Homo sapiens: one gene and its partners. The protein of the gene in region 1 purifies or fractionates together with the protein of each later gene. This does not show direct contact. Each region holds a gene or a part of one and is shown in the gene's direction. Other genes may lie near its edges. The genes, in order: WSB2, ZC3H14 and NKTR.

Region 1 (2,653 bases):
TTTGAGACAGTCTTACTCTTTCGCCCAAGCTGGAGTGCAGTGACGTGATCTCAGGTCACTGCAACCTCCACCTACCAGGCTCAAGTGATTCTTCTGCCTCAACCTCCCAAATAGCTGGGCTTACAGGCGTGCACCACCATGCCTGGCTAATTTTTGTATTTTCAGTAGAGATGGGGTTTTGCCATGTTGACCAAGCTGGTCTTGAACTCCTGGCCTCATGTGATCCACCCACCTCAGCCACCCAAAGTGCTGAGATTACAGGCATGAGCCATCGTGCCTGGCCGCTGACATTTATTTTTAAGTGGAATAAGATAGCACTTGGCTCAGGTCTTCATCAGCACATACGACTACCCTATTGGCAAACAGGACTCAGAAGCAGACTCAGAAGTCTCTGCACATGCGTTTCAGCAGGGGTCTTCCTAAGGCTGATCTGGTTTATTCTCTCTTATAGTGAGCTCCTTGAGCATGCCCATTGTTTTAAATCCTCAAGAATCCAGACCAGTTGCCTTATTTAAACCTACACCACACGTTCTGGAAGAGCTGTAGAAAAGGGATAGAGAATCAGCCCTGGCTGCAGGGCCTGCAGATTTGGTGGTGGTACCTTTCCCTCCCTCCGTTTGAGTCCTAAGCACTTTGCTTCTGCCCTAACCAGGCACTTCTTACTTTCCACAGGTCTTTCTATGGAGCATGAGGTCCTACACGTTAATTCGGAAGCTAGAGGGCCATCAAAGCAGTGTTGTCTCTTGTGACTTCTCCCCCGACTCTGCCCTGCTTGTCACGGCTTCTTACGATACCAATGTGATTATGTGGGACCCCTACACCGGCGAAAGGCTGAGGTCACTCCAGTAAGGACTGAATCCCTGCTATGACTTTTTTGTGGGGGGACTGATGAGGAACCTGCCTGGGATTAGACATGTCTCTTTTAGAATCTGGGACATGGGAGGGGACAAGCTGGATAAAAAGGCACAGTGGGTCTCTTTTGAGACGGAGTCTCGCTCTGTCACCCAGGCTGGAGTGCAGTGGCGCAATCTTGGATCACTGCAACCTCCACCTCCCGGGTTCAAGCGATTCTGCTGCCTGAGCCTCCCGAGTAGCTAGGACTACAAGCGTGCGCCACCAGGCCTGGCTAATTTTTGTATTTTTATTAGAGATGGGGTTTCACCATGTTGGCCAGGCTAGTCTCAAACTCCTGACCTCAGGTGATCCACCGCCTCAGTCTCCCAAACTGCTATTATAGGCATGAGCCACTGCGCCTGGCCTGGTTCATTGCTTCTTAGTGATGCCTTGTCAATTAAGCCCTCTCAAGTAGCTTTGAGTGTCTTCCAGTCTCCTGATTCAGGTGGCTGTGTGTACTTCTTCGGAATCAGCATTATGAAGCCTCAATATGACTCTTTATTTCCATTTACTAATAACTGTAGTAACAAGTTCAGAAAGAGCCTCTTATCGAAACTGTGCTTTCCAAAATGAGTTTCATGTTCTCACAAACTTGGTCTCCTTTTTCCTTTTGTGTCTGTTGTTTTATGAAGCAAATAATAGGCAGTCCTATAATTATCATGTATCTTAGCCTAAAAAAGACTTGCAGTTTCTACTGTGGCATTAAAGTGAGGGCTGACCTACTTTGCATAAGCAAATTAGCACAAGGAAGTGTTAGTAACCCTTCATCCACAGGACACCTGGAGCCTTCTGAGATACCCTTTTTTTTCCCAGTGTGCAAATCCCAAGCTTTTCCACGAGGGGCACACAATGCATCTTGAGCCCTTTTGTAGCCAGGGCAGTTTGGCTTCCTGCCTAGGGTGATGATGGAGGGTGGAGAGCAGCCATCACTCCAGGCCTGCCATCCTGTTTCTTTCCTTCCCAGCCACACCCAGGTTGACCCCGCCATGGATGACAGTGACGTCCACATTAGCTCACTGAGATCTGTGTGCTTCTCTCCAGAAGGCTTGTACCTTGCCACGGTGGCAGATGACAGGTAACGAAGAGAACTCTCTTTACATGGCCTCAGAACAAGTGCTTGCAAGTAATGGCAGCAAGGCCCTCTTGGTCTGGCCCTGGGTCAGCTAATATCCAGATGTTCTCTCTCCCCATCCAGACTCCTCAGGATCTGGGCCCTGGAACTGAAAACTCCCATTGCATTTGCTCCTATGACCAATGGGCTTTGCTGCACATTTTTTCCACATGGTGGAGTCATTGCCACAGGGTATGTATTTGTTAGCTGAACAGATGGGTGGTGCTTTCTGCTGAGTATACCATGGAGCTTTTTAAGGAAAGAAACCATCTAGAATTTTCTTGCCTATGAGGAAAGCTTTAAGGCAATTCAAGATTATATAAAACTCAAATGATCGATTTTGCTAATAACGGTGTCCCATTTTCTCTGAATATTTAACCTAAATGTAATTAAAGATCTGTAAGTCATGCCACCTAATGGGCCAAGTTCACAAGGGAGAATAAAATTGAGATGATGCATAATATATGGGAAACCATTTAGGGCTAAAAGACCACTTTACAGGTAACATCTATAATTCAGTAGGTGGCACTCTTCCCCCTTATACTTTTGAACTAACTGTGGTCAGATTTAGAAAGGGCTGTGCCGAGAGAGAGACAGAGAGAGCGCTTTGGTATCACAGGTGTCTTGAGTTTTTCTAATCCTATCAGC
Region 2 (3,657 bases), on another chromosome or scaffold:
TGCTACCAACAACAACATCTGTTTTAACCTGCTGTCTTTTCACTCACTGTCATATGGCAGCACAGATTTTATAGCTTGCTTTCTTTGTTTTTTTTTTTTTTGAGATAGAGTCTCTCTGTCCCCCAGGCTGGAGTGCAATGGAGCCATCTCAGCTCACTGCAACTTCTGCCTTCCAGGTTGAAAGCCATTCTTCTGCCTCAGTCTCCCAAGTAGCTGGGATTACAGGCATGCACCATCACACCTGGCTAATTTTGTAGTTTAAGTAGAGACGGGGTTTTACCATGTTGGTCAGGCTAATCTCCAACTCCTGACCTCAAGTGATCCACCAACCTCGGCCTCCCAAAGTTCTGGGATTACAGGTGTGAGCCACCGTGCCTGGCCTATAGCTTTCAATAAAAGGTGAATTTGCCTCTTAAAATTTGAACAGAAAGTTTTAATAGTTTACAAAGTCGGTGTCAGCCAGTGAAGACTAGGGGCATGACCTTCGTATGACTTAATGTTTTTAAAAGAAAGATAAAGTTTCTTTGTAAGGTATTATTGTAATAATCACATTTCTTTGTAAAGTATTATATTGTTCCTGAGTATCTAGCTACTTTGCTTTCCAGCTAGGCTTCTCTTGGGTATTCTCTTAATCTTTTATTTGTACTGGGTTCTTGTGTATATATTATAGTCTGCTGTGTGTAATTTATTATAGGAAAAGGGTAAGACACATTTACTTTGCGGGGATGACACAAAAAACCTGTAAAAATTAGAGAAACTTCCAGTCATCTCACATTTTCTTTGGAACCGATTATTCTTGTATCTTAGAACTAAAATGACTTATACTGTTTTGTTTTTAGAAAGGGTATCCCTCCTGTTGCCCAGGCTGGAGTGCATTGGCACAGTCATGGCTCACTGCAGCCTCCACCTCCCAGGCTCAAGTGATTCTCCCACCTCAGCCTCCTGAGTAGTTGGTTACTACAGGTGCACACCACCATGCCTGGCTAATTTTTTGTATTTTTTGTAGAGATGGGGTTTCACCATGTTGCCCAGGCTGGTCTGAAACTCCTGAGCTCAAGTGATCTGCCCGCCTCGGCCTCCCAAAGTGCTGGGGTTACAGGCATGAGCCACCACATCCTATTTAAAGCTTAAATAGGACTTTTACTATTTTTAAAGTAGCATAGAAAACTGTTTGTATCAGGCATAGTCATAATTGCTCTTTGATGCTGCTCCTATCTGGGCTGCATGACTACATTTGTGTGCCTTGTTCTCCTGTAGTGAGGACAGAATGTGGGTCACTGGAACAGTAAGTACTCATAGAACTAGCTGCTGCTGCTATTACGACTGGTTGCCTGTTTTGCATTTTTTCCGTTTAATCATCAGACTCTAAGGAAGACATTATTTTCTCTTTGTATAGATGAGGAAACAGAATTCCAAAAAGTTAGCTAACATTTGCACAGAGTGTCTGGCTGAGCAACTAAGTGGCAGAGTCAGATTTTAACTGACCTCTGGCAAGAGGACTAGAGGAATACAGTTGAAGTGATACTTGCTTTCATGAACATGAATGTGAACCATAATACATAATACCCATGATGCTATTTTGTGGGGAGTTTAAGGTGTCTCAGTCCAGAAATTAGCAGCTGATTATTGCCTGTAGCTGTAATTTTACTTATTCAGTGTTATTTAATAAATTGCCAGCATTACAATTTCGATGAAGGCAGATTTTTGGCTTACTGAAACAGGATAAAAATCTGGCAACAGGGGTCCCACTTTGCCCTGTCATAGTAATCGAAGCTGTGATTGGATGTGGCACAGGGAGTGGAGTGGATGGGTGTGCACTTGCTTTCCAGGCTGCTGCTCCCCGTCTGTCCCTTATTGCATTTATCATCTTCAGCCCAGTCAGTCTTGCTGTTAGGGGAACTGCCCAGTCTCTGTAAGTGATGGCATTTGTGACCCCATTGTAGGTAAAAATGTTTTCCCCTTTTTAGACATTGCTGGCTGAGCGCGGTGGCTCATGCCTATAATCCCAGCACTTTGGGAGGCCGAGGTGGGTGGATCGCTTAAGTCCTGGAGTTCAAGACCAGCCTGGGCAACGTGGGGAAACCCTGTAGCCAGGCGTGGTGGCACGTGCTACTTGGTAGGGGCTGAGGTGGGAGTATCACTTGAGCCTGGGAGGCAGAGGTTGCAGTGAGCCGAGATTACACCACTGGCACACCACTGTACTCCATCCTGGGTGACAGAGCAGGACCCTGTCGTAAAAAAAAAAAAAAAAAAAAAAAGTAAAAGACATTGCTGAGTTTCGCACCTGGACTTACAGCTCAGCAGGTGGGAATCCTTTTGTATTTGGGCCACTCATCATCTTGCTGGCGTGTGAGGATTCACATCTCCTTATCACCTTACCTGTTTTCAGTTTTTATTTAATTTTATTAGTTCCCCACTTGACGTCCTTCTCTATTTTTAATTCAGCTATGAATTAGTATTGAGAATTAGAATTTTTGGTGAAAAATTTGGCCGTAGTTGCAGAGTCACTGTCCTCTTTCCTTTTCACAGTGAGAACTGTTGTCTTCTTCCTGGCAACCTTTTATAGGATTCTATGGCCAGTGTTAATCCCATAATTTGAGCTCACTTATTTTATATGACTGTACATTTAACAGAAGATTCTAAGACAGGTTTGAGGGAAATATGTTAAAGGTGCTGTGTACTGAATTGATCATAATGAATGAAATACTTTTATTTCCTTTCCCTTTGTAGCTGAGATGAGTGAACTGAGTGTGGCACAGAAACCAGAAAAACTTTTGGAGCGCTGCAAGTACTGGCCTGCTTGTAAAAATGGGGATGAGTGTGCCTACCATCACCCCATCTCACCCTGCAAGTGAGTACCATCCCCCCATCTCACCCTGCAAGTGAGTACCATCCCCCCATCTCACCCTGCAAGTACCATCCCCCATCTCACCTGGCAAGTACCATCCCATCTCACCCAGCAAGTACCATCCCCCACATCTCAACCCTCAAGTGAGTACCATCCCATCTCACCCTGCAAGTACCATCCCATTTCACCCTGCAAGTACCATCCCCCATCTCACCCTGCAAGTACCATCTCCCCATCTCACCCTGTAACTACCATCCCATCTCACCCTGCAAGTGAGTACCATCCCTGCATTTCACCCTGCAAGTACCATCTCATCTCACCCTGCAAGTACCACCCCCTCATCTCACCCTGCAAGTATCATCCCCCATCTAGCCCTGTAAGTGCGAGTACCATCCCCCATCTTACCCTGCAAGTACCATCACCCACTTCACCCTGCAAGTACCATCCCCCACCTCAGCCTGCAAGTACCATCCCCCACCTCAGCCTGCAAGTACCATCCCCTATCTCACCCTGCAAGTACCATCCCCATCTCACCCTGCAAGTATCATCCCCCACCTCACCCTGCAAGTACCATCCCCCATCTCACCCTGCAATTGAGTACCATCCCCCATCTCACCCTGCAAGTACCATCCCCCATCTCACCCTGCAAGTGAGTACCATCCCCCATCTCACCTTGCAAGTACCATCCCCCATCTCACCCTGCAAGTACCATCCCCCATCTCACCCTGCAAGTATCATCTCACCCTGCAAGTGAGTACCATCCCCCCATCTCATCCTGCAAGTACCATCCCCCATCTCACCCTGCAAGT
Region 3 (3,657 bases), on another chromosome or scaffold:
CTTGGAAATCAAGCAAACAGCGCACATCAACTTCTGACTCTGAGGGGTCCTGTTCCAATTCGGAAAACAATAGGGGAAAGCCACAAAAGCACAAACATGGGTCAAAGGAAAATCTTAAAAGAGAACACACCAAAAAAGTGAAAGAGAAATTGAAAGGGAAAAAAGACAAAAAGCATAAGGCTCCAAAACGAAAGCAAGCATTTCACTGGCAGCCTCCACTAGAATTTGGTGAAGAGGAGGAGGAGGAGATTGATGACAAGCAAGTTACTCAGGAATCAAAAGAGAAAAAAGTTTCTGAAAACAATGAAACCATAAAAGATAATATTCTAAAAACTGAGAAATCCAGTGAAGAGGACCTTTCAGGTAAACATGATACAGTGACTGTTTCATCAGATCTTGATCAGTTTACTAAAGATGATAGTAAACTCAGTATTTCTCCCACAGCTTTAAATACTGAGGAAAATGTGGCCTGTTTACAAAACATTCAGCACGTTGAAGAAAGTGTTCCCAATGGAGTGGAAGATGTGCTTCAAACAGATGACAACATGGAGATCTGCACTCCTGATAGGAGTTCCCCAGCAAAAGTAGAGGAGACTTCCCCTCTAGGAAATGCACGGCTTGATACCCCAGATATAAACATTGTTTTGAAGCAGGATATGGCAACGGAACATCCTCAAGCAGAGGTAGTAAAACAGGAAAGCAGCATGTCCGAAAGTAAAGTGTTGGGTGAAGTGGGGAAACAGGACAGCAGCTCTGCTAGCTTGGCTAGTGCTGGAGAAAGTACCGGGAAGAAGGAGGTGGCTGAGAAGAGCCAGATCAACCTCATTGATAAGAAATGGAAGCCCCTGCAAGGTGTGGGGAACCTGGCAGCACCTAATGCTGCCACATCCAGTGCTGTGGAAGTTAAGGTGTTGACCACTGTGCCTGAAATGAAACCACAAGGCTTGAGAATAGAAATTAAAAGCAAAAATAAAGTTCGGCCTGGGTCTCTCTTTGATGAAGTAAGAAAGACAGCACGCTTAAACCGTAGACCAAGAAATCAGGAGAGTTCAAGTGATGAGCAGACGCCTAGTCGGGATGATGATAGCCAGTCCAGGAGTCCAAGTAGATCTCGAAGTAAATCTGAAACCAAATCAAGACACAGAACAAGGTCTGTCTCCTATAGTCACTCAAGAAGTCGATCGAGAAGTTCCACATCATCTTATCGGTGAGCAATATTCTCTTTCCTTTCTTCTCCCAAGGAGAGTCTGTTATTGTTTAGCTTGGAAGAATATCAGAATTAGGGACAGAATCACTATTTCCAAATATCTGAAAGGAATAAGAAGTCTTGTTTTGTGTGATTCAGAGAGTAGATTGAAAACTTAGGGAGAGGGAATTTCAGGAGGAGAAATTTGGGCTGGGTTTACAAAACTATTACTATCAGTTTAAAGCTCTCTGTCACTAGAAATGAGTTCCCATGATAGGTGGTAAATTCTCCATCTTTAAAGGTGTGAGGCTGCTTCTTGCCAGTCAAGTGATGCCTTAGAAGGGAATCCTGAATTGACAGAATATATAGAATTTGCAGATCATTAATCTAACCTTCCATTTTACACATGTGGAAGTTGAGGGCCAGAGAGACAAAGTTACCTGCCCAAGACATGCATCTTAGTTTAGATGGGGCATAGGGATAAAAATGATCATCTTTAGATTTTTGTTGTTGTTTGAAAAGCAATAAAAGAATTTAAAACACCTTTTTCTCATCTTTGTCACTCTGCACCTTCATGAAAAGGTTTTTTGTTATTGTTATAAATTGCATCATAACTTGTCAGCATAGAATGGATAACAGAGATGAGAATTAAAAACTAAAAATATTTGTGATGGTAATAGGAAGTTAGTAAGCAGTTGTGTTGCATTCTTTTTCTTGTAAATATTTTATGGTTTTACCTGTTTCTTAATTATTCATATCCCTTATTTTATTGTGCTTGATATTCATCATTTGAACTGAAAATACCATAAGAATCTTTGACGTTTGTTTCCTTTCTAGTTATTCATCAGTCTTTCTTCCCTTGCCTACCCAGACTTCCTAAAAAAGGAACCGCCACGTGCCATCTATACTCGGTCTCCCATTTTCTCCTCGGCTGTGTGCTTGCTGCCTTCTGTGCCTTCCCCTCCCCGCATCTCTTAGTTTACTGACTAAGACTTTCAGGTACTTCTGATGGCCAGTACCATGGCGTATTTTCAGCCTCACTTCTGGAGCCCTCTGCTAGCTCTCCTTTCTCCCACTCAGGCCATTTCGTCCCTGTGTTCTAGGCTTCTCTTCTTCCTCATGGCCTTTTCTCTCTGAGTTCCTGTTGATAGATGCAGTTGCCTATTGAGCGACTCCAGCTTCCTGTCTGCTTATGATCTGCCTTAACCATTTACACAGAGACAGCTCTGAGCTATTCGTGATGCTGGCCACTCTTCTCATTTACCTTCCCACCTCTGCCTTGGAGTGGGTGGTATTTCAGTTTGTAATGAAGACAGCAAGGCGTAGAAAGGCTAAGGGACTTGTTCTAGGCTATGCAGCTAACAGGTAGTAGACTGAGATGGATAAGCCTGGGTGCTGCCCTGCCTCCCTGTTTTGGTTACCTGCCTGGGCCTGACACCCCCATTAGGCTGTGAACTCCTTGAAGTCAGGAACTGTGTGTTACTCATCGTTCAGTCACCTCACAGGGTCTGGCTTTATTATTTTTGGTTGAATAAATGACTACAATCTTATTAGAACATAACGTATTCATTTTCTTGCAGATATACTGGAAGCAGGTCATGTCTTCCAAAACATAGTGCATACTGAATAAAACCTATGGTGATATTACATAATGTCACCTGTACACAGAGGTATTGTTCTGTTCCTGAATGACAGGCCTAAAGTAGGGGAGAAGGGTGGGGAGCCAAGTGAATGCAGAGGGGCAGAATTGTACTGCTTACATTTTTGCTTGTTTTATTAAGTATTAGACATAAAAAATGATAAAAGTATAAAAAGCTATATAATACATACTCATGTACCTGCCATCTAGCTTAAAAAATAGATCTTTGGGCCGGGTGTGGTGGCTCACACCTGTAATCCCAGTACTTTGGGAGGCCGAGGTGGGCAGATCACAAGGTCAGGAGTTCAACACCAGCCTAACCAACATGGTGAAACCCTGTCTCTACTAAAAATACAAAAATTAGCCGGGCGTGGTAGTGCGTGTCTGTAATCCCAGCTACTCAGGAGGCTGAGGCAGGAGAATTGCTTGAACCTGGGAAGCAGAGGTTGCAGTGAGCCAAGATCGCGCCACTGCACTCCAGCCTGGGCGACAGAGCAAGACTCCTCAAAAAAAAAAAAAAAATAGAGCTTTGATGTACCAGTGCCACCCCTAGGTGCATGCCTATGTCCCAAAGTTAACCATTATTCTAAACTTTGGTTATAATTTTGTTGTCTTTCTTTATAGCTTTACCCCAAGTGTTTCTATCTTTATACAATGTTATGTTTGCACTTTTTATTAAGTAAAATACTTTTATATATATAGATGTTCTACATTTGCCTTCTTCATTCAACATTGTGTTCTAGAGATATATCCTTGCTGAAACATGTAGCTGTAGTTCATTTTCTTCAGAATATTTCGTTATATATCTCTACCTTAATGTTTTTTTAACCCA

The links.
Region 2: the proteins of WSB2 (region 1) and ZC3H14 purify together in Homo sapiens (affinity purification with mass spectrometry; 2 studies listed by BioGRID and IntAct, with this or other methods). This does not show direct contact.
Region 3: the proteins of WSB2 (region 1) and NKTR purify together in Homo sapiens (affinity purification with mass spectrometry; 2 studies listed by BioGRID and IntAct, with this or other methods). This does not show direct contact.

The regions. Positions count from the first base shown.
Region 1 is NC_000012.12:118,034,530-118,037,182, reverse strand, and holds part of WSB2 (WD repeat and SOCS box-containing protein 2), read left to right. Parts: intron 1-672; coding exon 673-845; intron 846-1,858; coding exon 1,859-1,969; intron 1,970-2,089; coding exon 2,090-2,197; intron 2,198-2,634; exon of another isoform or gene 2,635-2,653. UniProt on the Homo sapiens protein: May be a substrate-recognition component of a SCF-like ECS (Elongin-Cullin-SOCS-box protein) E3 ubiquitin ligase complex which mediates the ubiquitination and subsequent proteasomal degradation of target proteins.
Region 2 is NC_000014.9:88,604,513-88,608,169, forward strand, and holds part of ZC3H14 (zinc finger CCCH domain-containing protein 14), read left to right. Parts: intron 1-2,730; coding exon 2,731-2,851; intron 2,852-3,657. UniProt on the Homo sapiens protein: RNA-binding protein involved in the biogenesis of circular RNAs (circRNAs), which are produced by back-splicing circularization of pre-mRNAs.
Region 3 is NC_000003.12:42,638,544-42,642,200, forward strand, and holds part of NKTR (NK-tumor recognition protein), read left to right. Parts: coding exon 1-1,207; intron 1,208-3,657. UniProt on the Homo sapiens protein: PPIase that catalyzes the cis-trans isomerization of proline imidic peptide bonds in oligopeptides and may therefore assist protein folding. Component of a putative tumor-recognition complex involved in the function of NK cells.